7 linked regions of the Homo sapiens genome follow. The protein of the gene in region 5 purifies or fractionates together with the protein of the main gene of each other region. This does not show direct contact. Each region holds a gene or a part of one and is shown on either strand. Other genes may lie near its edges. The genes, in order: ZNF184, KNOP1, NMNAT1, ZNF624, FGF13, DDX31 and YTHDC2.

Region 1 (4,566 bases), on a different chromosome or scaffold from region 5:
GTTTGTTTGTTTTTCCAGGGTCAGATCCTTAGGTTACTTCATGCAGTTTGGAAACTGATGATTTAGAAGAAAGTTATTCATAATTTCAAAAACTGTATGATGAAGTGATAAAATCAGAAGCTAGCTAGGTGCAGTGGCTCACACCTGTAATTGCAGCACTTTGAGACGCTGAGGCGGGTAGATCACTTGAGCCCAGGAGTTCAAGACCAGCCTGGGCAACATGGCGAAACCGTGTCTCCACTAAAAATACAAAAATTAGCCAGGCATGGTGGCGTGCACCTGTAGTTCCAGCTACTCGGGAGACTGAGGTGGGAGGATTACTCAAGCCTGGGAAGCAGAAGCTGCAGTGAGCCAAGATTACGCCACTGCACTACAGCCTGGGCAACAGAATGAGACTTTGTTTCAAAAAAAGAAAAAAAAAATCAGAAGCTATACATGTTACTAGGTAAGAATTAGGTGATAAAGAAACGAAGCCTGCAGTTATGGAATTCATTTTTGTTGAGTTTGCTTGGGAAAGAAAAGATAAACTGAATGGTGGCCATAAAGATTCATATTGTGGAGTAAATCTATTTGGAAATATAGGTTATGTATTTCTATTTAAAAGTACTGGGAATGGAGCCCGTAGATCCAAAATAAAAAATTGTAAGGACTGAAAAGTACGGTGATAATTATGAGATCATGGTCCTAAAGGAAGTAGAAAGAGATGTAATTCAGAGTCCAGTTCGAGAGGTGGATTTCATAGAAAGGTAGGAAGGACATCTCCTCAAAAAGGGGCATAACATAGAATATATATTGCAACAATTAGTGACATAACAAAGCATAAGAAAGTCCAGAAAACAGATGTTTTCCCATTTCTCCACAGGAAATACTTTAAAGGGAAGAAAGTACATCTACACTTCAGACATAAAATCCTCTCTTATCAGGCTGACAGTCGGAGTTAATGATATTCATCTGCTGGCATCCATGACTTACCTGCACAGGTACCTACTGGAATGCTTGGCTCCATGATCCATGGCTCTGTCCCTTGCTCTAACTGGGAAATCACATCAGGTTTAGAAACTTGGAGTCCTGTTCATTAGGGAAAAAAAGAAAGAAACCTGCAGTAAGGGGAAAGTACCATATCAGAATTCAATCACCACTTTGTCTTTAGAAGAAATGATATGTAGTAAAAACCTGATGGGAGTGGATAGCATATCAAGCTTTAGTGTTACCAGTTCCCAGACATGGTGGGAGTATAATTTGGGAACTGATCGGGGTTCAGGAAAATTATTATTTTGTCCCTCTGCTTGCTAGGATGGTAGAAACCTTTTCAAAAACTAGAAATTTAGAAATGGTTGGTTACTAAACTTAAAGGCAAACTCCCCTGAGCACAAGAGAGAACCCTCCTCCTGCACACCCCTTGATATTAACTCAGAGAAATTATCCTTACCTATAGAGACCAGGTGTGTATAATTTTCCAATGTCACATCCCTGAACAAATCTCTCTGGCCAGGGTCCAGCTGTTTCCATTCTTCCTGGGTAAAGTCCACTATCACATCCTTGAAAGTCACCGCTTCCTGAAATACCAAACATATTTCTGCTTAGCCATAAGCATTTACTTAGGAAAGGGGTAAAGTTAGCAATACTGACAGAAGTAAGGCAGTCTATAGGATGTCTGCAAAATAATCTTGACATTTTCTCCTTTATGAAATAAATGTAAAAACAGTGCCTCATCCATTGGGTTATTGTGAGAATTAAATAAAACATTCCATGTGAAATGCTTAATTTAACGTCTGGCATATAATAAGTGCTCAGTCAATATGGCCATTGTTGTTGTCCTTCATCGTCATCATTACCATCATCATCTCTGTGTTCCAAGGTCCGCTAAGTATTAATGGTTTAACTATTATCATCAATATTTTTTACTACCTACAATGTGCAAGAGCACCCAAAGGTTTTTTGAAAAAGAGAGGTGGAAAGACTTGCCCTAATACATTTCAAAAGATAAAGTAATTTAAAAATGGCCTAGTCTGGAATAAAACAAAATGAAATAAAATAGAAAATCCAGAAACAGATTCATATTTATAAGAGTTAAAAGGCATTAAGCAGCTTTCAAATTGGTTAAAAGTTAGTTAAATTAAAAGTAAGTTAAAAGTGAAATTAGTTAAGATGGATTAGTCACTAAATCATGCCATAACAAACGACTGTCTATGAAAAAAAAATTAAGGTGAGATCCTTACTTCACAACACACACAAAAATTCCTGCCAACCTAAAGATGAAATCGTAAAGAAAAAGTCAAAATAAAATAGAATAAAAAACAGGAAAATATTTGTATAAGCTTGAAATCTGGAAGGCAAAATTTACATGATGGAGAGAGAGATCGATAGATATAACCACATAACAATGTAAAACATCTATAAGACATCATAAACAAAAGGCAATTTAAAAAGCTTCTGCACAGTAAAAAAAAAAAAAAAAAAAAAAAAACAATCTACAGAGTTCAAGACAACCTGCAGAAGGGGCAAAAATATTTGCAAACTATTCATCTCACAAGGGACTAATATCCAGAATATACTCAAATCAACAGCAAAAAAATAAATAATACCATTAAAAAGTGGGTGAAGTATCTGAATAGGCATTTCTCAAAAGAAGACATATAAACACCCAAATATATGAAAAAATGCTCAATATCACTAAATGCAAATCAAAACCATAATAAGATATCATCTCACCCCAGTTAGTCAAAAAGACAAAAAAAAAAATAACAAATGCTGGCAAGGATACAACACTGGTGGGAATGTAAATTAGTACAACCATTATGGAAAACAGTTTGGCACTGTCTCAAAAAAACTAAATATGGAACTACCATATGATCCAGCAATCCCGCTAATGGGTATTTATCCAAAGTGAAGGAAATCAGTATACCAAAGAGACACATGCATCCCCATGTTTGCTATGGCTTTACTGACAACAGCTAAGATATAGAATCAACCTAAATGTCCATCAACAGACGAATGGATAAAGAAAATGTGGTATATATACACAAGGGAATACCATTCAGCCATTTTAAAAAAGAATAAAATCTTGTCATTAGTGGTAACATGGATGTACCTGCAGGACATTATGTTAAGTGAAATATGCCAGGCACAGAAAGATAAATATCGCATGTTCTCATTCACATGTAGGAGCAAACAAAAACAAAACGAGCTCATAGAGAGTAGAATTGTGCTTACTAGAGGCTGGGAAGGGTAGAGGAGGGAAGGCTAGGGAAAGACTGGCTAACAGTTACAAAGTTACAGGTAGATGGAAGGAATAAGTTCCAGTGTCTATAGCACTATAGCGTGAATATGGTTAACAATAATTTAGTGTATAATTACAAGAAAGTAGAAGAGAGGATTCGGAATATTCACAACACAAAGAAGTGATAAATGTTCAAGGTGATGGATATGCTAATTATCCTGATTTTATCATTACACATTGTATTCACGTACCAAAATATCACTCTGTATCCCATGGATATGTACAATTATTACATGTCAACTAAAAATTAAGGGAAAAAAAAAAGATCAACTACCCACAACAATAGCAACAATAAAGGCCAACAACCCAAATAGGCAAGTCACCGAGGAAAATGTGAAACCATGAAAAGATGCTCCCCTCCCCTAAAAATATAGTTAAACAGTAAAATATCAGACTGGGTAACACTGCTAAAGTGCTCATGTGTCCTATGGTGGAAACAGAACCCAAATGCAATCTATCTGGGGGGCAATCTGACAAGATCTATCAAAACTTTAATGGATACACCATTTGATCTGGTCTTCCTACTTCTAGGAATTTATTATTCAGAAACACTTCTAGGTACAAAGACATATGTACAATTGCCATTTCAACATCATTTGTGTGGAAGGAAAAAAAATCAAACTTACATGCCCATTAATAGGATAGTGGTTAAAAAATATATAGTACACCCATACTAAAACACTTTATATAGATAGTTATCAAATGATGTATATCTATACGTACTCATTAGAAAATATGTACACAAGAGGACAGGCATGGTGGCTCACACCTGCAATCTCAACACTGTGGGAGGCCAAGGTGGGAGGACTGCTTGAGCCCAAGAGTTCAAGACCAGCCTGCGCAACACAGTGAGACCTCATCGGCACTAAAGATAAAAATAGAAATAAGCTGGGCGTGGTGGCACGCACCTGTAGTCCCAGCTCCTCAGGAAGCTGAGGTGGGAGGATTGCTTCCACCCAGAAGTTCGAGGTTGCAGTGACCTATGATCATACCACTGAACTCTAGGGTATAATCCTACTTTTCTTTTTATGAATAGGAAGAACGTTTATATGTAAATGAACAGAAAAAAATCTAAAAGAATACTCAACCAAATACTATTGGTGGGACTGGGTAGTGGGACCTATAGGCAATGCAGGCAACTTCCTGCTTTTTTTATTGCTATGTATTTAAAACTAAGTGAGAGAGCAATAACTTTGTTTAAAAACTATAAATATATTAAATCATTAGGACTTTTCCCTCTAACCATGACAAAGCAACTGGACTAGCTCTTCCAATATAAATAAAAC
Region 2 (4,517 bases), on a different chromosome or scaffold from region 5:
ATTCTAACCCACATCTCCTGACCCAGGGCTTGGTGTCCGACCTTTCCCACTACACACGTCACCTACCTCCTACGGTGACACCAAACTACAGGACAGAGGCCAAGGACCACACTAACATGCACCATGCTCTCCCACCCGCCTTGGCCCTGAAGACACCCTCCAACAGCGAGACCTCAGGCCGGCCACTTTCTTGGGGTTCTTCAGTAACGACAAATGCTGACATTTCATGCGTCCTCACTTGAGAAGTGTGCTGTGCCTGGCACCTAGCGTCACGTGTGTGATGACCCTGGAAGCCCTCTCCATTCCCATCACTCATCCAGGCCTGCAACACATGTGCATTTGCTGGACTGGGTGGGCTGCTGTGGGAGGTAGAGTCCCCCCACAGATGTTAAGCAGAGGGAACTCCCTTTCACTGAGCTCCTGGGAGAAGGGATTCTAGAGTCTGATGGCGGCTGGGCCCAAGCCTCTAGGGTTCCTCCCAACTCCAAGTTTCTGAATAAAGGAAGATGCTGGTAAAACCAAGGCTAATGGACTAGGGCAAAGCTGGGAAAATCCTAGCAACCAAAGCTAACACCTGGAGGCCTTTGATATGGAGGCCACCCCTCCACTCCCCTCCCCCTCTAACCGAGCAATGGGTGGTCCAAGGTCACCCAGCAGATTGGTGCAGAGCTCGGAAGAGAATCTGGGGTTTATGCTAATGGAAAGATGGTCATTTCTGGGGCTCTACTAATACCGGCTTCTACAAGAGGTTACATAGATGGTTTCTGAGAAGGGATAAATGCCAACTTCAGAAGCCAGACTAGCTGAGTTTGAATCCCAACTCCACCTCTTGCCAGCTGTGTGGCCTTAGACAAGGTATTAAGTCTCTGGAGCCTCAGTTTCCTGATCTGTCAAATGGGGGTGCCCACAGCAGCTACCTCACCAGACAGGTAGGAGGATGAGATGGGTTGATACAAAGCAGTCTGGGCATACAGTAAACACTCAAGAAATGTCAGCCACCGGCCACACGGAAGGGCCGGACACTGTCTGGAGCAGGACACACACCCTGAAACAAGACACACACCATCGTTTCGGCCCACACGTCCGTGCACACACCTGAGGACAGGAATGGGGGCCTGGCCCTGGAAGGGGCTCAGCTGGGAAAGGCTGTGGGTCTGGGGAGCCACCAGCCCTCCGGCTCACCTCAGGCCTCCCTCTCCCACTCCAGGCAGCCTGGCAGGCTGAAGACAGCAGGTCTCTGTGGTTTTCACCAAGCCATCATCCACTCCTTCCCTCCTGGTAACAGAACTCCAGTTTTCCTCTCAGAAACTGCCTCCCCGCATCTCAGACGGTGTGGTTTAGTTAGGACTGATACCCGCCCTGTCCTTCACCTCAAGTTTTTTTTTTTTGAGACAGTCCCGCTCTGTCACCCAGGCTGGAGTGCAGTGGCATGTCGGCCCACTGCAACCTCCACCTCCCAGGTTTAAGCAATTCTCGTGCCTCAGCCTCACGAGTAGCTGGGAATACAGGCGCCTGCCATCATGCCCAGCTAGTTTCTGTATTTTTAGTAGAGATGGGGTTTCACCATGTTGGCCAGGCTGGTCTCGAACTCCTGGCCTCAAGTGATCTGCCTGCCTTGGTCTCCCAAAGTGCTGGGATTACAAGCATGAGCCACCGCACCCGGCCACCTTTGGTTTTAGATTAGAGCTTCTGGATAGATTGACCCAACTGAGGCCTGCGATAGTGGCCCTGAGACTTCTGTCATAGATTTACAGGGGCCACCCTTCTTCCTTTGGGGGTGGCTGAACTGCTGGGATGAAAGCCTAGAGCTGCCGGGACCATCAGGTCACAATGTGATGGAGGTGGAGGAGGAGGATGGGCCATAAACCAAGATAGAAAAATACAAAGCCCAGAGCTGAGGAAATCTCATACAGGCATCTCCGGCTACCCAAATCTATTTGATGTATAAATTGTGTATACTGAGCTGTGATGATACTCAGATAGCTACAGGCACTACGTTATCTCATGTTACTTGGTTCCTGAGTTTTGGATAGCAAGTGGCAAGAGTTCAGAAAGCAAGGGATTCATCTGAAAAATTGATCCCAGTTAATTCAGACCCCAACGGCAGACAGGGAAAACTTGGGTGGTTTCAGTAGCAAAGGATACCTGCAATTATCGATGATACTGCATGAGCCCCTAGATCCAGCCATACCTGAAGCTAGTTAACCATAACCTTTCCAATTGCATATATCAATAAACTCCCTATTCTGGCTGAAATTAATTTAACCAGGGTTTTAGCTAAAAGCATGAGTACTCGTGCATGTACAAACATGCACACACGCCTACACACCCCTCCCAAACCCCACCCTTAATTCTCCCACGGCAAAGTCCATTTCTGAAGGAAAAACTACCTCCTTCCAAGGGTCTCCTGCTACCCCACTCTCTTTCCTCTTCTTCTTTTTCTTCCTTTTCAGAGCTGGCTCCTCGATGACTGGCTGCTCTACCTTCTTTTTGGACTTCATCTTTTTCTTTGCGGAGGCCTTAGGGTCATCACTTATGGGGATGTATTCCGGAGCCTCAACTTTGACTGGCTTCTTTTTACTTCCTTTCCTAGGGCTGCTCTCCATGGACCTGGAGGGCTTGGAGTGGCCTGGGAGGGCATCTCCCTCCTGGTGGATTTTTTTTTTCTTCTTCACCTTCCCATTGTGTTCTCTGGGGCTCTTCCGCTTCCGTTTCTGCCCCAAGGCTGCCTGTTCCTCATCCTTCTTCCCCACTGAGCAAGTGTCCCCAACATCCCTGGCCTCCCTGGCCTCACAGAACCAAGGGTCCTGGACCGAGAAGGCTGTGGGGTCCTGGGCCCCCTTTTTTTCCTTCTTGTGTTTTTTGAGCTTCTTGCCAACTCTGGTTTCCTCCTCACCCTGTCTAGGGTCTGGGGAGGTTTTCACCCCAGAGGCATGGGACATGGCTAGAGGTGACTTCTTATTTTTCTTTTCCCCACTGAGGAACTCCAAGTGGCCAAACACCTGCTTCCTGAGGCTGGGTGACTTCTCTGTCCGTCTAGCAGGCAGCGTGGTCTCAGGTTCTACATGCTCCTCGCAAAGGGTGCTGACACCCTTCTTTTTCTTCTTCTTTTTCTTCACTAGAGGCATCTCAGGTGCCTGCCCATGGGCCACACTCTTAGAGGGGGATGTAGCTCTTAAAGGAGAAACATCAGCAAAGTAATCATCATTGTTTAAAACTGAGTATCGAGTCTCTGGTTCTTTGACCACTTTCTTCTTCTTTTTCTTCTCTGGGAGCCCAAGGTCTACTTTGTGTGTCTTGGTGATCATTCCTGAAAAAACAAATGGTACAAGTTATCCCATACCAAGCCATCCTGTGTTCAATTCTACTAAGCATTGCCAAGAGCCATGTTTCTTTGAGTGGGTGGTCAAAGCGTTGTGGGACAGGGAAAATGGACATGATTCCTTTAAAGCAAAAAAAGAAATACTACAGAAACAGCGTAAATTTTAAATCCACACAGCCCTAGGTTCAAACCTAAATGCCTCTCTCACCTTAAGTAAATCAGCTAACCTCCCTGAGCCTCAATTTCTCCATCTGGAAAATGGGGGAATATAACACCTCCCTCCTCAAAAGGGTGTTGGAGGGAGTAAATGAGATAACCCATGGAAAGGGCTTGGTACACTGTTAATTCCCTTTTTCTTTTTCTCTTTTTTTTTTTTTTTTTTTGAGACAGAGTCTTGCTCTGTCACCCAAGCTGGAATGCAGTGGCGTGATCTCGGCCCACTGCAACCTCCGTCTCCTGGGTTCAAGTGATTCTCCTGCCTCAGCCTCCCCTGAGTAGCTGGGATAACAGGCACCCGTGATCATGCCCAGCTAATTTTTTTTTTCTTTTTTAGGAGGGACGGGGTTTCTCCATGTTGGCCAGGCTAGTCTCAAACTCCTGACCTCAAGTGATCCGCCCGCCTCAGCCTCCCAAAGTGCTGGGATTACACGCATGAGCCACCTTGCCTGGCCTAGTTCCACTGTTTTTAAAATTTGAAGTTGATTGCCAACACTGAATGAGTCACAATGATGCACAGTACTGAGGGCACCCAGCTTGTCTTGGACAGATATCGTGGAAGCACCTGTGAGAATGGGCTGGGGTCCTCAATACCCATCAGTGTCCAGCTGGACCACTGCTCTCACTCCAGTCCCCAGCCAAGTTCCTGCACTAGACATTCCCAGAATCTAGAAGCAAAATATCCCAAAATATTTCATAGCAAGTTAGGATCATGGGAGGGAAAGGAAAAACTTCTCCATCCTGCAGCCCTCCTCAGCTTCGGAACTCAGAGGGTCCACACTGGAGCTGGCTCTCTCTTAGCAGCTTCAAAGAGCCAGGCCTGAGCTACAGGTCAAGTTCATTCATAACCCACTCCAGGCGCACCTGGAGAGTCAAGGGAATAACTATACTCATTCATTGCTGTCTGCCCTGTTTCCTGGTTTATTTCCAGTGTCCTGCTCAGTGCCTGGCACATAGCAGGTGCTCAATACATACTCAC
Region 3 (4,566 bases), on a different chromosome or scaffold from region 5:
GAATTTTCTCATCTTCCCCAACTGACACTCTGTACTTCACCTCATTCCCCTATACAGTTAAATTTCTATTGATATTGCCAAATTACTTTGTAAAAAGCCTTAATTTGTATTGTCCACCTAGATGTATGCAAAAGCCCATTTCTCAATGTCATAGGCAAATAGTGAGCTTTAGCATCCATCCATCCATCTACCTATCAGCATATTATATGATCATTTATGTAACAAAAAAATCGAGGCCAGGTGTGGTGGCTCACACCTGTTATCCCAGTGTTTTGGGAGACCAAGGCAGGAGAATCACTTGAGCCCAGGAGCTCAACACCAACATGGGCAAAACAGTGGGACCCAGTTTCTACAAAAAATTAAAAAATTAGGCCAGGCGCGGTGGCTCACTCCTGTAATCCCAGCACTTTGGGAGTTCGAGGCGGGTGGATCACGAGGTCAGGAGATCAAGACCATCCTGGCTAACACGGTGAAACCCTGTCTCTACTAAAAATACAAAAAATTAGCCAGGCATGGTGGCGGGCACCTGTAATCCCAGCTACTCCGGAGGCTGAGGCAGGAGAATGGTGTGAGCCTGGGAGGCGGAGTTTGCAGTGAGCTGAGATCATGCCACTGCACTCCAGCCTGAGCGACAGAGCAAGACTCTGTCTCCAAAAAAAAAAAAAAATTAGCCAGATGTGGTGGCATGCCTGTAGTCACAGCTACTCAGGAGCCTGAGGCAGGCAGCTCACTTGAGTCCGGGAGGTAAAGGCTGCAGTGAGCTGTGATCATGCCACTGTACTCCAGCCTGCCCAGCCAGGGTGACAGAGTGAGAACCATTTCCACAAAAAAAAAAAAAAATCTGTGTATACACACAAATGTTTGCATATAAATTCATACAAAGAAGAGTGGAAGGATACACATGAAACTGTTATGGTTATGCTATGTTATGGTGGCTCATGCCTGTAATTCCAGCACTTTGGGAGGCCGACGTGGGAGGATCACTTGAGAACAGGAGTTCAAGAGCAGCCTGGTCAACATGGTGAAACCCCATTTCTACTAAAAATACAAAAATGGGCCGGGCATGGTGCTGTGTGCCTGTAATCCCAGTTACAGGGGAGGCTGAGGCAAAAGAATCGCTTGAATCCAGGAGGTGGAGGTTGCAGTGAGCCAAGACTGTGCCACTGCACTCCAGCCTGGGCGACAGAGCGAGACTCTGTAGAGTCAAGGTTTCGCCACATTGGCCAGGCTGATCTCAAACTCCTGACCTCAGGTAATCTGCCCCTTCTGCCTCTCGAAGTGCTGGGATTACAGGTATGTGCCACCACGCCCAGCCTATTCATGCATTTTTTTTTTTTTTTTTTTTTTTTTGAGATGGAGTCTCGCTCTGTCACCCAGGCTGGAGTGCAGTGGCGACATCTTGGCTCACTGCAAGCTCCGCCTCCCAGGTTCACGCCATCCTCCTGCCTCAGCCTCCCAAGTAGCTGGGACTACAGGCACCCGCCACCATGCCCGGCTAATTTTTTTGTATTTTTAGTAGAGATGGGGTTTCACCGTGTTAGCCAGGATGGTCTCAATCTCCTGACCTTGTGATCTGCCTGCCTTGGCCTCCCAAAGTGCTGGGATTCCAGGAGTAAGCCACCACGCCCAGCCTCATGCATTGTTTATGAAAACTTTTAGCTGGGTATGGTAGCTCATGCCTGTGATCCCAGCACTTTGGGAAGCCTGAGGTTGGGAGTTTGAGACCAGCCTGACCAACATGGAGAAACCCCGTCGCTACTAAAAATATAAAAAATTAGCCGGGCGTGGTGGCACATTCCTGTAATCCCAGCTACTCAGGAGGGTGAGGCAGGAGAATTGCTTGAACCCAGGAGGTGGAGGTTGCAGTGAGCCGAGATCGCGCCACTGCACTCCAGCCTGGGCAACAAGAGTGAAGTCCATCTCAAAAAAAAGAAAGAAAGAAAGAAAAAAGAAAACTTTTAAAAAGCTGTGCCTGATCCTAGAGGTTTTATGTATGCTAAAGTACAAGCTTTCGCTTTTTGCCTTAAGTAATGGGAAACTCCTAAAGAAGATTAAGCACAGGCATGACAGAATCAAATTCCTTTTTTTGGGGAGGGGTGGTCAGGGTCTTGCTCTGATGTCCAGGCTGGTGGGCAAAGGTGCAATCATGGCTCACGGTAGCCTAGACCTCCCGGGCTCAAGCAATCCTCCTACTTCAGTCTCCTGAGTAGCTGGGACCACAGGCACATGCCACCATACCTGGCTAATGTTTACAATTTTTTTTGTAGAGATGAGGTCTCTCTCTGTTTCCCAGGTTGGTCTCAAACTCCTGGCCTCAAGTGATCCTCCCACCTCGGCCTCCCAAAGCACTGGGATTACAGGTGTGAGCCACTGTACCTGGCTGTATTTTCTATTCTACAGGCCATAGCCAGATGCTCAATTCTTCCCTCATACTTCACCCTCTTTTTTGGCTAAGAATTCACTGTACAAGGGAGCAGGACAGCATGTTTGTGCCCAGTCAATGAAATGTGTATTCTGAAACAGACCCAGTCATGCCGGTTCTCTAGTATTTTTTTTTTTTTTTGAGATGGTGTCTTGCTCTGTCTCCAGGCTGGAGTGCAGTGCAGCAATCTCAGCTCACTGCAACCTCCGCCTCCCGGGTTCAAGCGATTCTACTGCCTCAGCCTCCCGAGTAGCTAGGACTACAGGCACAGTGAATTTTCGTATTTTTTAGTAGAGACAGGGTTTTACCATGTTGGCTAGGATGGTCTCGATCTCTTGACCTTGTGATCTGCCCGTCTCAGCCTCCCAAAATGCTGGGATTGCAGGTGTGAGCCACTGCACCCGGCTGGTTCTCTAGTCTTAAGCCACTTTTGGTTACTGCTCCTACCTGTTCCATTCATGTAGTCCTTGGCCAGCTCAAACAACCTGAGGTGCATGTTGGTGATGGGATTGAATGAACCACAAGCAAGGAGAACCACTTCAGTCTTCTCGGAATTTTCCATGGTAAGAACTTGAAGTTGTTGATCTAAATGGAAAACTGTGACACCTCCCTTGTTGTCTACAAAGGAAAAAGAAAATAAATTCAGTTATGCATTTTTTTTTCCCTAAGATAAGGTCTTGCTCTGCCACCCTGGCTAGAGTGTAGTGATGCAACCACAGCTGACTGCACCCTCAAACTTCTGGGCTCAAGTGATGCTCCCACCTCAGCCTCTCAAGTAGCTGGGAACACAGGCACATACCAATAGGCTGGCTAATTATTTTAAAGACTAATTTTTGTAGAGATGGGGGTCTTGCTATGTTGCCCAGGCTGCTCTCAGACTACTGGTCTCAAGCAACCCTTCCACCTCAGTCTCTCAAAGTGCTGGGATTACAAGCATGAGTCACCACGCCCAGCCCAGTTATAGGTCTTTTGATGTCCTTCCACATTCTCATTCCCAATAGATGGATTAAAAGTATTTGGCTTTGGCTGGGCGTGGTGGCTCACACATGTAATCCCAGCACTTTGGGAGGCTGGGGCGGGTGGATCATGAGGTCAAGAGATCAAGACCATCCTGGCCAACATGGTAAAACCTCGTCTTTACAAAAAATACAAAAATTAGCTGGGTGTGGTGACAGGCACCTGTAATCCCAGCTACTTGGGAGGCTGAGGCAGGAGAATCACTTGAACCCAGGAGGCGGAGGTTGCAGTGAGCCGAGACTGTGCCACTGCACTCCAGCCTGGCGACAGAGAGAGACTCCATCTCAAAAAGAAAAAAAAAATTGGCTTCAATCATTATGCTAACTCTAAAAATGTTTCCACATCTCCATCCCTCCTTTTCAATGTGAATCTGCAACTTCTACCATGAAGAGATGGAAGTGACTTCTCCACATTTTTTGACTTGCTTTGGGCAAAAGAATGTGGCACAAGTGTTAGTGTGGAGGATGCCAGAACATGTGGGAGAGCACCGATGCTCCCACTGATAGACAACCACCCCACATGTGGGGAACATAGCCATCCCCGACCAGCCAACTACAGTCCATCTGCTCAGACACATAAGCAAACCCAAGTGAGATCAACCAAACCTGGCTCAGATCGTCAAGCCAACAAGCTGACCCTAGTCTCAAAAACAAAAAATTAGTGTTCATTATCATATGTCACTCAAGTTTTGTGATTGCACTATTGTGGCCACAGTTAATTAATACAACAATATTATCATCTACCAAATACAGCATTTTTGCCTTTTAGTCAACATGATAGTAACATCATAACTTTCCACTAAATAATAGAATATAATTTACAAACCTCTTTTTCATATCAGTTATTCCACTGATCCTTCCATAACCCTAATGAAGTAACATAAGGCATCCAATTTTAGGTTTTTATTAAAATTTCTTTTTTTTTTTTTTGAGACGGGAGTCTCACTCTGTTGCCCAGGCTGGAGTGCATTGGCGCGATCTCAGCTCACTGCAAGCTCCGCCTCCCAGGTTCACACCATTCTTCTGCCTCAGCCTCCCGAGTAGCTGGGATTACAGGTGCCTGCCACCACACCTGCCTAATTTTTTGTATTTTTAGTAGAGACGGGGTTTCATCATGTTAGATGGTCT
Region 4 (5,314 bases), on a different chromosome or scaffold from region 5:
AGTGACATAATAAGTATTAAGTTTTTGTACAAAAAGTGTTATAAGCAATTATATGGTCCTGCAAGTAGGGCCTTTGTTATGCTTAAACATGTGGAATCTGCTCCTTCCCTGAATGTGCACCTTGCTTCTCATAACGTTCAGTAGCTTTGCTCAATAAACATAGCAGAACTTAATCTAACCTTACAGTGTCTAACAATCAGAAGCTCATCTGAAAAGATACTTGAAGTACTTAACCATTATTCTCTGAAAAACAAGAATATATAAAGCAAGGTTATCAAGAATGCAAAGAATATTAGAGATATAAAAATTAACTAGATATGGGTATACTGAAACATATACTGTCAGATTAATGTATTAACTCAAGGAGGAGACCAGGGTTAGTTAAATCAAGAAAATATGTAAATATCTTGGCTGGGCATGGTGGCTCATACCTGTAATCCCAGCACTTTGGGAGGCCGAGGCGGGCAGAGCACCTGAGGTCAGGAGTTTGAGACCAGCCTGGCTGACACGGTGAAACCCTGACTCTACTAAAAAATACAAAATGATCAGCCAGGTGTGGTGGTGCACGCCTGTAGTCCCAGCTACTCGGGAGGCTGAGGCACTAGAATTGCTTGAACTTGGGAGGTGGAGGTTGCAGTGAGCAGAGATTGTGTCACTGCACTCCTGCCTGGGCGACACAGCGAGACTCCATCTCAAAAAAAAAAAAAAAAAGTGAGTATCTTAAAAATGTAGAGTGACCTGTTTCATGACACTGGGGCTTTCCTAGGCACAATGAAAAGGTTTTGGTGGAAGAGAAACAATGAGAAGTTGAGGGAGGAAAGCGGTACAGTGTGGAGATAAAAGAGGTAAAGAAAGAATAGTCTGAGGGGATTCCTGTATTGAAGCCTCAAGGTAACCAGTAAGTGGTTTTGCCTTATGCCAGTGTTTCTCTAGATTTTTCTGTCATAGAGCCTTTTGCAAATCTAATGAAAATTATGACTCCTCTCCTGTTTTCTAATGAAAACGCCACATGTATAACTAGAGGGGTCTCAAATCTGAGAATGCAAAAAACTCACTGGATATGCTTATTAAAAAGGAAATTATTTGGCCCCATCCAAGATCAAAATCAGGATCTCTAGATGTGAGGCACAGAAATATACAGCTTGAACAAGTACACCTTAAGAAATATTTAGTTTAATATAATGTTAACATGTTAATTATATAATGTTAAATTATATAATGTTTTAGTTTTAGTGTAATATTTTAAGAAATATTGCCTGTTACACAATAGGGATTCTGAAGGGTGAAGGAGTGGGAGGGGGGTGGAGAATAAGGAATTACTTAATGGGTATAATGTACGTTATTCTAGGGACAGATACCCTGAAAGCCCTGATCTCACCACTACACAATCTATGCATACCAGTAAATCTTAATTTTTGGGGGGGTACGGACCCATCTGAGAATCTGACCTTGTCCACAAAATAATGCACATGCATATATGATGTTGCATATTACTTCAGAGAGCTTGAAAACTGACTCTCCCTCCCAAGCCCATACACTGACCCCCAAGTTTTACAAGGTTGCAAAGAAAAAAAATGAGCCAAGAATATTGCCCCATCCCGCAACCCCCGAACACTAAAGCAGACCTACAAAGAGCAACATAAGGCATTTTCAATTCCGAAGGTCTAGAGTAATGGTTTTCTGCATCTTTAACATTTATCAAGAGTGAGCTGAGTCATCATTTTTAAAATATTTGTAAATATTAATAAACTCTTTGGCAATACTTTATGTAGATTATGTAGATTATGCTCGTAACATATGTTTAACAACCAAACTACAATAAATCCCTTGTTTTATTTTATAATTAGAATAAACAATATTTAACATTTAATATATTCAGCTTGATCTCAATTGTGCAAATGTAATGCATAGAAAAAAAGACTGAGTAACCCAAAACTCTACTGAGACCTCTGAGACCTGGGGCTGTGATGTTTACCCTTCTTTCTGCTTTTCTGTACTCTCCAAGCAGACAAGAAGAAGTATCTACCTATACATAGGAGTGTGGAATAGGAATAAAATCCCAGAGTGGCTGGCCACATCCCCAGGTTCTAACCCTGCTTTGGCTACCGTAAAACTGTGACCACAGGCAAGTCACTTGAGCACAACGAATCAGCTATTAGTACATGACAGTAGCCACCTTATATGTTTCTACTGTCCCCTTTGTCATTATGCAGAAGATATCTAGGCCACTATTCCCCAGTTATAATTTCCCTATTTACAAGCTCTGTCTTTCCAACTATTGCAAACGTATCCAGAGACTTAAGGAGAAACTTTACTTGTTTTGCTTCCTTGGCCAGTGCAGTTATTTAGAAATAATGAAGGGTCCATGTTTTTGCTGAGAATCTCAGCGCCATGTACCAGTCCAGCATTTCCCAACCAATGCAATAATACCATTGTCATGTCAGGGAGTGACAAGTGATTAAAAGGTGATTACAGTATTTGAAATGTGACATTTCAGGAAAAGCTGCCTCGGTTACTGAGTAGCGCAGGTCCCCCGATGTGGAACCTAGTTCCATCCCTGCCAGTTCAGAAGCCAGAGCGGATATGCTCCTGCCAACCTCGCCTTCTTTCCCTAACTGCTCTCCTCTACCCACTTCGGGTATGCCCTCCTCAGGGCCTGCAAGGCGCGGGGCTGGGAAGACCGGGAAAGTCGGGTCAGGGGCCCGCCCGCCCTACTCGACTCCCTGCGCCCTGCGCCCGGCTCTTTTTAACCCCAGCGCCGCCAGGCCCGCAGGGAGGGGGTTCCCGGGTTTGGACCCGGACTAGGAGGCCGCATAGGGCACGCGGCCCTACCTGTGAGGGAGGCCAGCTGGAGACTGAACCCACACTCGGGAAGGAGGCCCAGCCCCAATCGCCTCTCAGGAGTGGGCGGGTCCGCTCAGGGACAGGGGCTCTAGAGGGAACGGCCACGCCCCGGACGCCGCCGGGAGCCAAGCGCCAAGGGAGGGGCGGCGGGCAACCGAGGCCAGGCGCCCGGGACAACGAGTACCTGGCGGCCGAACTGAGGACAACTGAGGGAACTCGCAGAGCAGGGCGGGAACGCTTCCAGCAATGGCGGCGGCTCGGCGGTGCCGGCCTCCAGGCAGGGCATTGCGCCTGCGCAGCCGGAGCGTCGGAACTACAGTGCCCAGAATCCTCAGCGCCTGAGCCCCCCGCCCCTTTTGTCTGCGTTAGTGAAGGAATTGGCTCTTCGAGGGTGAGAAAAAATTCCAATTGGATACACTTCTGTTGAGAAGCCTTGACTATGTGTCAAAAGCAATAGCACTAGAGATACAAATAATGACACAACCCTTGTCTTGGAACATTTAGGTGCGACTAAAGAAAGCCGTCGAGAGAACAGATAGATGTGATCCAGACAAATATGTGAACAAGTGCTTGGAAACACATATTTCTGAACAATTCCCTTTATGACAATTCCCTCAGAGTTGGAAGAGACAACAATTGATGACTATAATGCCAATTAAGTAGAATGGATATGAATGTCTGAAAATAAGCTGGAAATTTTAAGGCCAAAATTCTTCGAAATACAAAGAAAAAACCTTTCTGAAGACAAATAGCTGTAGAAGTTCTCCTCAATGCATACAAATGATAATTCTTAAAACACAATGACTGAAAGTATTTATTTGCAACAAATTTATTTGACCACTTATTCAAGGGCTGCTCGTCCAAGAGCTATATTAAGGTCTATTTACTTTATCCCTACCAAAGGCGGTATTTTTTGAGGATAGAAACTACATCTCATGGAGTTTATCACTCAGAGTGCCTACTTAGGAGACTGCTTGCATACTGAATGAAACGAAGGAAGAATGAATGAATAATTTGGGACCCCACCTCCCAACACACTTCCACATATCGAAATGCACACGGAATGAGGTACATCTTCTAAGGAGAGTGGCATTGAAGAGTAATCAAAACAACAGGATATTCACAGGAGGACTGGAATAAAACGAAATTTCCAGTGAAAAAGATTACTCAAAATATTTATTCAATACACTCTGAAATTAGAAACTAAGCAAATGTCTTTTGGAGATCCCAGTTCCCTCACATTCCCCACAGATGAAGATGAGCCAAACAGAAGTCCAAAACTTAAACATTACAAAACAAATAATAAAATAAGACACTGTGACTGAAAATCAGCACAAACAATAAACGGCAGAAATATATCCCCCAAAACTTCAGAGGCAGAGCTCATTTGATTAAAAATTTAAAATTATTACATTTAAAATGTTTAAGGACATGATAGATGGAATTAAAAACATTATCAACAAACAACAGAATGTAAAATAAGCCACCAGGAAAGTTTAGAGAAACATACACATTTCGTTAAACTATTAAAAAAAAATGTTTAACACAATATTTAGGGTAGATTATTACTTCTACAGGGATAAAGTCCAGGAAAGACAGACACACAGGTGACTTCAAAGGTATTGGTAGTGTTTTATTTCTTAATTTTGGTAGGAGTACACTGTTCAATTTGTAGTGATATTTGTTATAGGCAATTTTGTGTGCATTTTATATTTAGTAATTTTTAAACTCTTAAAGAACTCTTCTGTGAAGGAAGAAACTAATGCTTTTTGGCTTCAAATAATAAACCAATGGTTAAAAGTTACTTGAAGATAGATTTTGATTCAGATTGTATAACTTTATGCTAACAACGAACAGCTTTAGAAAATAGAGTAGGCTACCTTGTGCAATAATGAATTTGAATTCTTTGGAGAAGTTCAGGCAGAGATTAGATGAATCCTTGCTTAGAATTTTTAAATGTCCTCTTGGGAATTTGATTGCATGACCTGCAAGCTCTCTTCCACATAAGCATTTTGTGTTTACATGAATATTCCTTTCATTACATTTATTTTTCCTCCCATTGGGCCAGGTAATGAATAGATTTGTATCATCATAATGTGTTATGGAATACTTAGGAATCAGTGACATTAAGGGATGACTTCGTCTGGGAAGAGTGGAACTTAATGGATTCCTCAAAAGGACTCTGCACAAGGGTGTGATATTGGGAAACTACAGGAACCTGGTCTCTCTGGGTAAGAAGAGTTTTGTTGTGACTCGCTATTTTTCTGTTGGACCAAATGGACCTTAGGATTCAGGGATTTATGATATCTTATGAACCCTTATGGAGTAGTTCTATCTCCATTTCCAAGTAAAAACTCTACTCTTTGTAAAGGGAAAAATTTATATTTTCATCAGCATATCTTGAAAACTCTACCTGAGGACAATCCCCCAGACCTAGGACTGTCTCTTTTAAAGTCTCTTTTCAGGTACT
Region 5 (4,557 bases):
ATTGTTTTGCTCCATCTGTGAGCTGGACTACCAGACTCCCACAAAGGTACTCTCATACTTGAGTGGTTGTCAAAATTGTAGATAGTGGGGAAATGACAGGAGAAAATTCCTGTTCTGCCATCTTGCTGACATCACCCCAATATCTAAAATGCATATTTTAATTATTTTTTTCCTTGAATAAAGTTTATTTTGGAATTGTTGAGTTTTACAAAATAATTTAAAATATTCTCTCTCTCTCTCTCTCTCTCTGGGGTTGAGGTCTCACTCTGTCACCCAGGATGGATTACAGTGGCACAATCGCAGCTCACTGCAGCCTCGAATTTCTTGGGTCAAGTGATCCTCCCACTTCAGCCTCCCAAGTAGCTGGGACTACAAGGCGTGTGCCACCATGCCCAGCTAATATTTTTACATTTTTTGTAGAGATGGGGTCTCACTATGTTGCCCAGGTGGGTCTTGAACTCCTGGCATCATGTGGTCCTCCCACCTCCACCTCCCAAGTCCTGAGGATACCAATTGTGAGTCACTGTGCCCAGCTATCCCCTTCTCACTCTCTTTTTCTCTCACACACATGTGTGCATGCACAGACACACACACCTCATGTTCATTCTCTTTACCATGATGATCCTTGGTTCTTTTACACAGCTTCTTTCAGTTTACCTTACAATTTAGCTCAACACAAATTTTAAAAAACTTATAGTTACAATTTAATTTGGCTTGGTCCACACCTCTAACAAATTTGATACAATCTCCAACTTACGGTTGCAAGTTAGTTGATTATATTCACTTCCAAGTATTTCCCCCAACATTTCATTATGAAAATATATCCATCAATTAATGCTCTTATCTATAAAATAATTATTTTTTTGCATTTCAAAATAAGTTACAGACATCAATGCACTTCATCTTTAAACCCTTTATCATGCATATCAGGAAGTAGAGTTTAATATTTCTATATTTCTTGGGGGAGAAATGGAGCTAAAATTATATACTGTATCATATACAAACCTGTTAGGTATATCAATTCATGTGTATTGACAAATGCGTGCACCATGTAACAGAAACTCCTTTCAAGATATAGAATATTCCTATCACTACAAATATTAATCACCAAAACAATGGGGAGAATGTCTCTAGGGCATGTCAGAGACCTTCACTGCAGCCTCTCCCATTATAGGCCAGGAGGCCTTGAAGGAAAAAAATGGTTTAGTGGGCCAGGCCTCAGGCACCCCCCCTTGCTCTTTGCAGCCTTGAAACATGGTACCCTGCGTCCCCAGCTGCTTCAGCTTCAGCTGTGGCTAAAAGGGGCCAACATACAGCTCAGGCCATTGTTTCAGAGAGTGCAATCCCCAAGCTTTGGCAGCTTACACATGGTGTTGGGCTTGCAGGAGCACAGAAGTCAAGAATTGAGGTTTGGGAACCTCTGCCTAGATTTCAGAGGATGTATGGAAATGCCTGGATGTCCAGACAGAAGTCTGCTGCAGGGGTAGAGCTCTCAGGGAGAACCTCTGCTAGGGCAGTGCAGAAGGGAAATGTGGGGTTGGAGCTCCCCCACAGAGTCTTCACTGGGGCACTGTATAGTGGAGCTCTGAGAAGAGGGCCATAGTCCTCCAGACCCCAGAATGGTAGATCCACCAATAGCTTGCACCATGCACCTGGAAAAGCCACTGGCACTCAACACCAGCCCATGAAAAGAGCTGTGAGGGTGGCTGCATCCTGCAAAGCCACAGGGGAAGAGCTGCCCAAGGCTGTGGGAGCCCACCCCTTGCATCATTGTGACCTGGATAGATGTGAGACATGGAGCCTAAGGAGATCATTTTGGAACTTTAAGCTTTAACGACTGCCCTATTGGATTTTGGACTTGCATGGGCCTATAGCCCCTTTGTTTTGGCCAACTTCTCCCATTTGGAATGGGTATTTTTACTCAATTCCTGTACCCCCATTGTATCTTGGAAATAACTAACTTGCTTTAGATTTTACAGGCTTATAGGTGGAAGGGACTTGCTTTGTCTCAGATGAGACTTTGGACTTGGACTTCTGGGTTAATGTTTGAATGAGTTAATACTTTGGGGGACTATTGGAAGGGCATGATTGTGTTTTGAAATGTGAGAACATGAGATTTGGGAGGAACTAGGGTCAGAATGATATGGTTTGGTTTTGTGTTCCCACCCAAATCTCTCCTTGAATTGTAATAATCCCCATGTGTCAGGGGTGGGACCAGGTGGAGGACTGAATCATGGGGGTGGTTTCCCTCATGCTATTCTCATGATAGTGATTTATAACAGATCCAATGGTTTTATAAGCATCTGGCATTTCCCCTGCTGGCACTCATTCTCTCTCCTGCCACCCTGTGAAGAGGGGCCTTCCACCATGATTGTAAGTCTCCTGAGGCCTCCGAAGCCATGCGGAACTGTGAGTCAGTTAAAACTCTTTCCTTTATAAATTACCTAGTCTTGGGTATTTCTTTATGGAAGCATGAGAATGAACTAATGCACAGGGTAAAAATTTAAAAACAAACATACAAATGCAAGTAAACAAGCCAATATTTCAACTGTTCCCATTGCATTATCCTTATTCTTTATCTATGGTACCAGAAAATAATACATCTGAAACAATTTTTTTTTCCTGCCATGATGTACACTCAAGTGGGTCCACTGGGGTTTCTTTCAGTTTCCCAAATACTAGATATGACTCTTCCCTATACCTTATCTTCATATGAAGAAAGCTATGAGAATATATTAATAACTGAATATAGTAACACTACTATAGGAATAAGCATGTGTATATTCCAACTGATCTTTTAAAACTTTTATTTTGAAATATTTATAGATTCAAAGGAAGATGCAAAGAGTATAGGGAAGTGCTATATGCCCTTTATCTAGTTCCTCTAGTGGTATCAACTTACATAACTGCAGTATCATATATAAACCAAGAAATTGGCATCTGTATAATCCACAGACATTACTCAGACTTCTCTAGTTTTACATACACTAATTTGTATGTGTGTGTGTGTGTGCGTGCACGTTTATGTGTGTAGGTCTATGCAATTTTACCACATGTGTATATTTGGGTAACCACTACAATGATCAAGATATGGAACTGTTCCGTCACCACTAAGATCCCTTGTGCTATTCCTTTATAAACATCTCCCTGTCATCCTTTTTCACCCATAAAAGCTAGTAAACACTAATCTGTTCTTCATCCTTATAATTTTATTATTTCAGAATTGTTATATAAATGTCATCATACAGTATATAACACATAGAGATTGGCTTTTGTCACTCAGCACAATTCCCTTGAGATGCATCCAAACTGTTGTGTATATCAGTAATGCAATATGTTTAATTTCTGTGTAGTATTCCATGGTAGAGATGTGCCATAGTTTAACTATTCACCTGTTGAACAACATTTGTGTTCTTTCTACTTTTGGGCTATTACAAATAAAGTTGCTATGAACATTCATGTATAAGATTTTGTGTGATCATTGGCTTTCATTGCTCTAAGACAAATTAATAAGCATTTCTGAGTTATATAATAATCACATATTCAGTTCTGTAATATATTGCCAAACTTTTTTAAAGTAGCTATATTTTTCATGTGTTTATTTTCGATACATATATCCTATTTTACAAAATGATTGTTGATGAATTTTCTCTATATTCTATTGGATGTTTTAAGAAATTTTCATTGAGTTTTCAGAGTTTGCTATATAGTCCAGTTATGAATCCTTTGTCAGATGTGTAGTTTGCATATTTTCTTCCTGTGGTTAATTACTAAAATTGCAGTGTAAGAACTTCTGAAAACCCTTTCATCCATAAAAGCAATAAGAACACAGGTGAAAATTCTAAATTAACTTGTTCATAACTCTGGAAATTAACTAAAAACTTGTAAGAATTTGAGAAGTCTTTATTTTAGAAAATTTGCTGGATATTGGCAAGAACAGTGAAATCTGTGGCATTTTAACTTACCATATTTCCATATTCTTTTACTCAGCTCTGCAATATTCTCAAAAGCCAAGTGCCCTGCAATTATAGTGGCATAAAAACAGCAGTCTGGCAGCCATCAAAAGTGGAAGAATGCCATTAAGGGTGTCTGCCAGCTCTATCCCTACAGAATGTCATCAGGGACCTGTTCTCTAAATATCCCAACCTGTAGAACTTGTCTTTGTTTCACCTGATTCAACCTCATTCAGTGTGAACAGGCTTTTGTTGAAATCAATCCGTGGCAGTTGTTCCACACTGCAGCTGCTTGAGATGTCAACTACAGTTAGGGCAAACACAAAGTTGACTAGAAAAACTTAAAAGGAAAAGCTAAGGAATGAGATGTCCATAGGAGGATTTTAAAAGTTTCAATATATTCTTGGGAATTTTAGAAGGCTGCATGTATGGGCAGGGCTGTGTACATACCTAGGGAAGACTTGAGAAGGCCCTAATTTCTTATATGTGTCTAATCTAATATATGTCCAATCATTAGCTGGCCACTAAGCTAACTGAGCAGAGACTAGTGACCATACACATCAAATGATACAGACTTTACATAATTAGTTCAAGAAAGTCATTA
Region 6 (3,309 bases), on a different chromosome or scaffold from region 5:
GGGGCGGGGGGCGGGCAGCTGTGGCCTGGGTCACAATACAAAGACCCCCAGACCTTTCTTGAAGACAAGACAGGATTCGATAGGGAAAAAAAGCTTGGGATACTGGTGCCTTTTGACTTCAAAGGCAAATAATAAAAAGCCAACAGTAAATCAATTAGCCCTGAGAGAGTGAGTTTTCAGTGGACATGAAAGAGGGAGCAATGCATGTAAATGCAACCTCGTGTTTCCAGAAGAAAATAAGAGGGACCACGAGCCTGAGAACACATTCGTATTTTTTGACCCAGACCAAAAACTTTTGGTCCTTTTTAACGGTACATTCCTACATTAAGAAAATAATTAGTGATAAATATATTCTCTTTTTGTACAAATTCAATTCCAGTTTTTAACACCCTAATTCACAAAATTCATGCCAATGTATGCGCTGATAGGCTGAAGCCAAGCTGTGAAACTTCAGAACACAGTTAAGGGCAGCAATCAAGCCCGTTCCAGGCTGACGCGCAGGGCGTTCTTACATCACATCCCGGGGTGCCAGCTCAACCCCGGCACGTCAGCACCTGGGTGAAGGGAGTGCCGGGCACTGATGGGATCAATACAAGACACAGACCCCTTCCGTCGGGAGCTGGCTAGTCTCTACAGTGCCCCACACCACTGATTTCTATCAGGCTCCAGGGCCTCCCATGGAGGAGAAGGGCTGTGGCCCCTCTGATTCTTGGGGACGTGGTATTCAGGCAAAGGCGCAGTTATTTTTCACAAGCCTCCTCTGACAAGAACTGGACATCAATCCACTGCCACCCGGGGCTTCCAGGTTCCACTCGAAGACCCAGAGAGATTTTAAACTTTCTGGGAAGTCTTGCTGTCCCGCTGTACACCTTTTTGGGTTTTTCTCCATTTTAATGTTTTCCCACGGCCAAAGCAGGGTGTCGGCTGCAGACTGTGCTGCAGGGGCCGGCCACCAGGCTCTCCAGGTGCGTTTTGCTTTTTGACCTTGGCGATGTCGGCCTCCATGCCGCTTGAGTATTCCGAACGTAGGATTTCAGCGAGGCTGTGTTTACTCTGGGTCTTCTTATGAAGGTCAGGCCTGAAGAACAGTAACAGCAGAGAGGGAAAAGAAACTTTATTATTTTTCTTTCCCATTTGGAAAGAGGCTGATAGCAGCTGGTTCTGAGACTGTGAAGCTGACATTTTTGTATTAACAGAAGTACAATCCCTTCAATAGTACTTGTTTTGATATTCGATGCACCAGAAGATTAGATACGGCGCTGACAGATTTTCATAACAGCGGCAAAATATCATGGCATTTTTAAAAGTGAGGCTTTGTTCTGTGTTGTTTTCATGGGGAAAAAAAGAACTATACACCCTCATGCTCTGATGGCAAATGAGGTGTATGATACAGCGGTTTGCCAAAGGACAGGGAAAAACCCACCGTCACACTCAACAACATGAAGCAGTGAAAGCTCACGGCAGCTTCCCAGTAACCCCTAAGCAGCTTAAAGCAACTGGCCTCCTCATGGGCTCCTGAGGGCTTCAGGACTCAGCCCTGCGGGAGCAGAGTCCAGCAAGTTCCACGCAGCCCTCCAGGGTTCCACAGTGAAGGCTGGGATGACAGCCAGATAGCTCTTTATGAACGGAAAAAACTCTTAAACATATTTCTGACCCTACAAAACCCAAACCCAGGGCACAGCCTGGTCAATGTCTGCATCTAGGATTAGACCAGCAGCTTTCTGCAGCCCACACAAACCCGGGTGTTAGAGGGAGGTCTCTCCCTACCCTAAGTCACTCAGAAAATGCCAAAGGTTGAAAATCAATTTCCGATGTCGAATCCTGATAACTGTTCTGAAAAGATGGCAATTTTACCATTTGATCGGAAGATCAGAGGAGGAAATTTGTAGATGTTCAATCATACATAAGAAGAATGATTATGAAAACTGAAGAGTAAAACAATGTTTCTTAAGACAGGATTTTAACCAAAGCAACAACAATAAAACAATTACCAATAAATCCACACTTCCTTGCTGGCAACTCCTTCAATACCAAAACGGCAATGTCTTAGGATACTATAGTGTCATGGAGTTCTCACAAAGACATATGTTACGTTCTGCTACTACATTTAGAGCATTTTCTTTGCTGTAATCAGAGAATAAACTGAACTGAAACTGTGGTCAAAATAAATGTAACAATGCCTTTAAAACCCAAGAATTAGAAATAAGACTAATAGTGTGTTGTTAACCTGACTGTGAAAGCTTGTAGAAACCCATTATAAACGAGCTAAAGCAATAATACCTGTTTCTAATCACACTCCAGAGGACAGGGTGACAGTCATACAATGGTGTTTTCTATTGCAACATACAGGAAGACACATTCAAGCCAACCTCTGCAGGAAAAGAAGATCTGAAACAAGGGGACAATGAACAGATAACATTTAAAGGCCAGGAGTTTATGGGGTGAGCACATCAGGGCAGGATGTAGTGAGAAGATTAGAAGTATACAGGGAAGACTTCCTGGGGTCTGTGGGAAATGATTCACATACACAATCTCTTACAATCCTCGCTCAACAAGGTGGGTACGGTTATTATCCTCATTTACAGACAAGGACACAAAGACTCAAGGAGGGTAACCTGCCCCAGGACCACATGGCTGGTAAGTGGAGAAGCCAAGAGGCAAACTCAGGGCAGAGAACGATTTGCCGGGTCAGCGGGGGCAGGACTCAGCTGGACCAAGGGTGGAAAATGGTGAGATGTGATGGGAGGGGTCCTCTGTGGTCTCCTAAGGACTACTTCAGCAGGACAGTGGGGCAGGAGCCAGGCAAGTGAGTAGGGAGTGGTGAGGGGAGACAGCAGAGCTGCAGGGTGGAGGAGGGAGAAGCCAGGGTTGGAACTTGACTATCACTCATCAGCTGAGGACACAGAATGAGTGACTCAGGCTCTGTGCCTCAGTTTCCTCACTGAGAATGGCACTCAGGTGTGAGGATTAGAAAAAATCAAGACATATAAGGGGGTAGCTGGTGGTTGGCATGTGGATCGCAGTCACAGTTAAACATTAGGAAACTGAGGTCTGGAGATGCCACGCACCTCCCCCAGAGCCACACAGGAGCCAGGACTGGTGCTACGGCCCCTGACAGCTGGGCTGGGGCTCTTCTGAGAGCATCCACCACTTCCCTAAGAGCAGCGAGTCTCATCATGGGTCACCCGCCCAGTGCGGACCATGTGCACCAGTGTCCCTGGAGGAGGTCCAAGCTGCTGGGGGCTGACCTGTGGTTGGGAAGTGGCGGGAGACAGGGCCTGCGGTTGGGCGCACTCAACTTGTTCCAAA
Region 7 (4,566 bases), on a different chromosome or scaffold from region 5:
AAGAAAACAATGGAGCCTGAAGTTAAAATATATTAAAATATCTGTTATTCAAGAGCATATAAAATGTTTTATTTGACCTGGGTTTTTGTACTTAATTTTATAGATGTAAAATTGGAAATGTAGTCTCAGACATTTGAAATTAGTTGTGACATTGAGTCTCAAAATTCTTGGTAGGTTTAAATGCTATTTCTGATATGGTAGGTTTAGTTGTCATTTCAATAGTAGCACCCAGAACTTGCAGTCCTTTTATTGTTAACACTTTGAATGTTCCAGACATTCTTATGGTGTTAAGTAAAGCTCACTAGATACTGCAGGTTACCAGGTAAAGCGTTTATCTGGATAATATTTTAATTATCCTGGCTAACTGGGCTTTCTTTTTATTTGATAGATCATATTATCAATTATAAATTTCAGGTATTTAAAATTGAATATATTATTATGTTTACTGGATTATTGATAATTTATATCCAAAAGTTATAGCTTTAAACAGAATATAATGTCTTCTTCATTTATGTGTTAAAAATTAAAAAACAATAAACTTACAGTGTTTTAAAGTAGATCTTAAAATTTATAAGAGCTGAGAACACATGGACACAGGGAGGGGAACATCACACACCAGGGCCTCTTGAGGGGTTCCGGGATAGGGGAGGGATAGCATTAGGAGAAATACCTAATGTAAATGAAGGGTTGATGGGTGCAGCAAACTACCATGGCACGTGTATACCTATGTAACAAACCTGCATGTTGTGCACATGTATCCCAGAACTTAAAGTATAATAAAACATTTACAAGAGCCAATTATTAAGTTGTAGAAGTTTAATATTTTTCCCATTGAAAATAGTCTTACGTTATTTTTCTGCTAAATTCTTTAAGAGAGATTGGATTTATTTGAACTTCCTAGAAATTCTGTTGATAATTGCTAGTGATAGCAGTAGTTTACATTTTTACATATAAGATGAAGAAGCAAGGCATTTATTTCAGTAATTTATGTTGATTCTTGCTTTTGGAAAATAGCATAATCAACTTGCTTTTAGTATAGAATTTTCTAATTAACAGTCATGTTAAGTTGGTACCTACTGAGTTTTTTAAAAATGTGAACTATACATCAGAATATTGTTTATAGTAGTAAACAATTAGATACAACCTATTAAGAAAATATAAATGATAGCTGAAAGTTTGTGGTTTTTAACAGTTTTATTGAGATATAATTAATATACCATATAATTCACCCATTTAGGTGACCAATTCAATGGTTTTTCATATGTTCACAGACTTATGCAATCATCACCACAATCAATTTTAGAACAGTTTCATCACCACAAAAAGAAACTTGTACCCATTAGGTGTCTCTCCCTATTCCGCCCCAACTCTCCTAGGCCTCCTCCAGCTTTAGACCAACCACTAATCTACTTCCAGTTTCTATAGATTTGTCTATTTTGGACATTTTATATAAATGAAATCATGTGATATGTGGTTTTTGTGATTGGCTTTTTTCAGTTAGCATAAAATATCCATGTTGTAGCACTATTTTTATGACTAATACATATTCTATGGATATACCAAGGTTTGTTTGTATATTTGTCAATTGATGAACACTTAGGTTGTTTCCACTTTCTGACTATGAATAATACTGGTATGAATATTTGTGTACAGATTTTTATGTGGATATATTTTTTTCATTTCTCTTATATATACACCTAGGAGTGGAATTGCTGGGGCATATGGTAACTCTATGTTTAACCTTTTGAAGAACTGCCACATTGTTTTCCAAAGCAGCTTTACCATTTTACATTTCCACCAGCAATGCATGAGGGTTTAAATTTCTCCACACCCTCTCCAACACTTGTTATTGTCTGTCTTTTTGATTGTAGTCATCCTAGTTGGTGTGAAGTGGTATTTCATTGTGGTTTTGATTTGCATTTCCCTGATAGCTAATGATGTTGAACATCTTTTCATGTGCTTATAGGCCATTTGTATATTTACTTTGGAGAAATGCCTTCAGATTGTGCTTTTCTAAAAGCATTCATTGCCAAATTTTACTTTGAATAATGTGCTTGAAATCAAAACATGAATCATATTATAGCTAGGACATTAAGTGTCACTTACCTTACCTTCCTTAGGGAATATTGGAAATTTGAAGGACATAAGGATTACTTTTGTTAATGGAAATTGACTTTGTCTTTTTTTTTTTTTTTTTTTTCAGTGCTACACTGGAATTTGGAAATCTAGATGAAAGTTCTCTGGTTCAAACAAATGGAAGTGACCTCAGTGCTGAAGACAGAGAGCTCCTGAAAGCTTATCATCATAGTTTCGATGATGAAAAAGTAGACTTGGATTTGATCATGCATCTTCTATACAATATCTGCCATAGTTGTGATGCTGGTAAATACGTGTTGTCTAAAAGAACTGGAGCAAAATATATACTTTAAGAATTAATATTTTAAGTGTACAAATTTTTATATAATTGCACTGATAGTAGTAAGTGAATAATCTCCTGTCATCTTATGATAGTTTACCAGTACTTGAAAACATGTGATACAGATTTTTATAATTCTGTTGATTGCCTCTGATTCACAATGAGATTTAATATTAAAAAGTCATTCTTCTCCAAGGTGCAGTACTAATTTTTCTGCCTGGATATGACGAAATTGTTGGACTGAGAGATCGCATCCTGTTTGATGACAAGCGGTTTGCTGACAGTACACATAGGTAAGGGCTAAAGCCTTATATCTGTTGCTTAAAATAACGGACAGGTCTTATAGTATGTTTTCTCTTTCAATTGTCTGCAGATACCAAGTCTTTATGCTTCATTCAAATATGCAAACATCCGATCAAAAGAAAGTATTAAAAAACCCACCTGCAGGTGTTCGAAAAATAGTAAGCTTCATAAAATCTTCTTTTTAACACTTTCATTAGTTATTTTTTCTGTTTTTTTATTAACTTTAAAGTAATATCTTGTTGCAGATTCTTTCCACCAATATTGCTGAAACCAGCATCACAGTCAATGATGTTGTCTTTGTTATTGATTCTGGTAAGGTGAAAGAGGTATGTATGGGTAAGTTGTAGTTTTACTTAAATGAAGAAGATTAAGTTCTACTTCAACAAATACTTTTATTTATTATTTAGTTGTTTTTCTTTTAATTTTACCTCTACTCAAGACAGCTTGGACCAGCGCATGCTTTTATAAGCAGAATTTACGAAAAATGTCTGGTTCTAGATAAATTTAACATACTAAATATTGATTTTACTAAATATTCTGCCTTAAATAATTCAGTATATAGAATCAATTTTTGTTATTTTAACAAAGTATACAAAAATGTAGCTCTGCTCACCAAATACTAGGAAGAAAGTAAAGGGTTTGGTTAGTTATAGTGAAAATGTTGTCACACAGTATGGGAATTTGATTACATATTTTTTATGTTTTCCTTCTACATATGCACATGGATTATGTCTTTGTTCACTGTTAAATCTTTAGTGCCTCACCTATAGCAGGTGTTCAAAAGATACTCAGTTCAAGAGAACCATGCTGAAAGAAAGCAAAGAAATAGATAAACCATGGGATAACCAGCAGCTAAATTGGACTTAACACTTGCTTTTGTAAAAAAAAAGTTTCATTGGAACTCAGCTAGTCTACTTTTACCTTTTCTCTATGGTTGCTGCCTTCATACTGCAAGGCAGATTGGAGTATTTGTAACAGAGACCCTCTCAAAGCCTAAAATATTTACTATTTGAAAGTCCTTTTCAAAAACAGCCAACCTTTGTTATAAAAAAAAAAAAGCCATTTATTTCCTTTTAGTACTGGAATGCCCAGCAGTTGTCCATGTTCCTAACTTTTGGTAGATAACATTCGCTGAAAAAATGAAAGTGGTAAAGATAATTGATTTTTCAAGGGAAGACATATTACTCATGTGTGGAAAGCAAATTATATCTATTTAGTGGATAAAAATGATCGTTTTTAATGTGAAAAAAGTAATTGCCTTATGTTTTCAATGTAATTTTAAGGAATATTTTATAGAAAATAAAATTTTATTATAAAAATTGGCCATATGCTTTATAATTGAATAAAGGTGGGATAAATTTTATTTTTATATAATAGTACATTAATGAGTATTATCACTAAAAATCTTAATGGTGAGCCAATGAAAATTCAGATTTTATTGCCCTAAAATTACCTAAAGTGGATAAAGTGGGTTTTGAATATTTTAGAAAGTTCCTTTAGGTGTTACTTATTTATTAAGTAACTGAAATTTAAAACATGGGTAGTGTCAAAAGTTATTTAACATACAAAATTGACAAATGTAATGTCATATTAAAAACCAAATAAGCTGTTTTCTAAAAATTTTATAAACTATTATGCAAACATTTTTATTTGCTCTATGCAGTTATTTTATGAAAGGGAAAGTATAAGTACCGAGTGACTGAAATACATGTTCTAGTTAGGCTTGTATTTCTTTAAAATATTTCTCTACAATAAATTTTCACTGTAGGTTATTTGAATAAGTATGTGGATAACAATGGTTCTTTTTTACTTTCTTCATTGTAACGTTCGGGAAAGGCTAACTTTGT

The links.
Region 1: the proteins of FGF13 (region 5) and ZNF184 purify together in Homo sapiens (affinity purification with mass spectrometry; one large-scale study listed by BioGRID and IntAct). This does not show direct contact.
Region 2: the proteins of FGF13 (region 5) and KNOP1 purify together in Homo sapiens (affinity purification with mass spectrometry; one large-scale study listed by BioGRID and IntAct). This does not show direct contact.
Region 3: the proteins of FGF13 (region 5) and NMNAT1 purify together in Homo sapiens (affinity purification with mass spectrometry; one large-scale study listed by BioGRID and IntAct). This does not show direct contact.
Region 4: the proteins of FGF13 (region 5) and ZNF624 purify together in Homo sapiens (affinity purification with mass spectrometry; one large-scale study listed by BioGRID and IntAct). This does not show direct contact.
Region 6: the proteins of FGF13 (region 5) and DDX31 purify together in Homo sapiens (affinity purification with mass spectrometry; one large-scale study listed by BioGRID and IntAct). This does not show direct contact.
Region 7: the proteins of FGF13 (region 5) and YTHDC2 purify together in Homo sapiens (affinity purification with mass spectrometry; one large-scale study listed by BioGRID and IntAct). This does not show direct contact.

Annotation. Positions count from the first base shown.
Region 1 is NC_000006.12:27,455,854-27,460,419, forward strand, and holds part of ZNF184 (zinc finger protein 184), read right to left. Parts: intron 1,557-4,566; coding exon 1,430-1,556; intron 1,069-1,429; coding exon 973-1,068; intron 1-972. UniProt on the Homo sapiens protein: May be involved in transcriptional regulation.
Region 2 is NC_000016.10:19,711,728-19,716,244, forward strand, and holds part of KNOP1 (lysine-rich nucleolar protein 1), read right to left. Parts: intron 3,311-4,517; coding exon of another isoform or gene 3,309-3,310; coding exon 2,391-3,308; intron 1-2,390.
Region 3 is NC_000001.11:9,970,492-9,975,057, reverse strand, and holds part of NMNAT1 (nicotinamide/nicotinic acid mononucleotide adenylyltransferase 1), read right to left. Parts: intron 3,041-4,566; 5' UTR 2,985-3,040; coding exon 2,870-2,984; intron 1-2,869.
Region 4 is NC_000017.11:16,650,736-16,656,049, forward strand, and holds the start of ZNF624 (zinc finger protein 624), read right to left. Parts: upstream 3,116-5,314; 5' UTR 3,029-3,115; exon of another isoform or gene 2,833-3,028; intron 1-2,832. UniProt on the Homo sapiens protein: May be involved in transcriptional regulation.
Region 5 is NC_000023.11:138,613,636-138,618,192, reverse strand, and holds the end of FGF13 (fibroblast growth factor 13), read left to right. Parts: 3' UTR 1-3,466; downstream 3,467-4,557. UniProt on the Homo sapiens protein: Microtubule-binding protein which directly binds tubulin and is involved in both polymerization and stabilization of microtubules.
Region 6 is NC_000009.12:132,594,035-132,597,343, forward strand, and holds part of DDX31 (ATP-dependent DNA helicase DDX31), read right to left. Parts: intron 2,389-3,309; coding exon of another isoform or gene 2,334-2,388; exon of another isoform or gene 1,109-2,333; intron 1,079-1,108; coding exon 832-1,078; 3' UTR 1-831. UniProt on the Homo sapiens protein: May have DNA helicase activity and RNA helicase activity. Probably have ssDNA and RNA dependent ATPase activity. Plays a role in ribosome biogenesis and TP53/p53 regulation through its interaction with NPM1.
Region 7 is NC_000005.10:113,550,978-113,555,543, forward strand, and holds part of YTHDC2 (3'-5' RNA helicase YTHDC2), read left to right. Parts: intron 1-2,203; coding exon 2,204-2,382; intron 2,383-2,612; coding exon 2,613-2,709; intron 2,710-2,789; coding exon 2,790-2,877; intron 2,878-2,964; coding exon 2,965-3,045; exon of another isoform or gene 3,046-3,055; intron 3,056-4,566. UniProt on the Homo sapiens protein: 3'-5' RNA helicase that plays a key role in the male and female germline by promoting transition from mitotic to meiotic divisions in stem cells.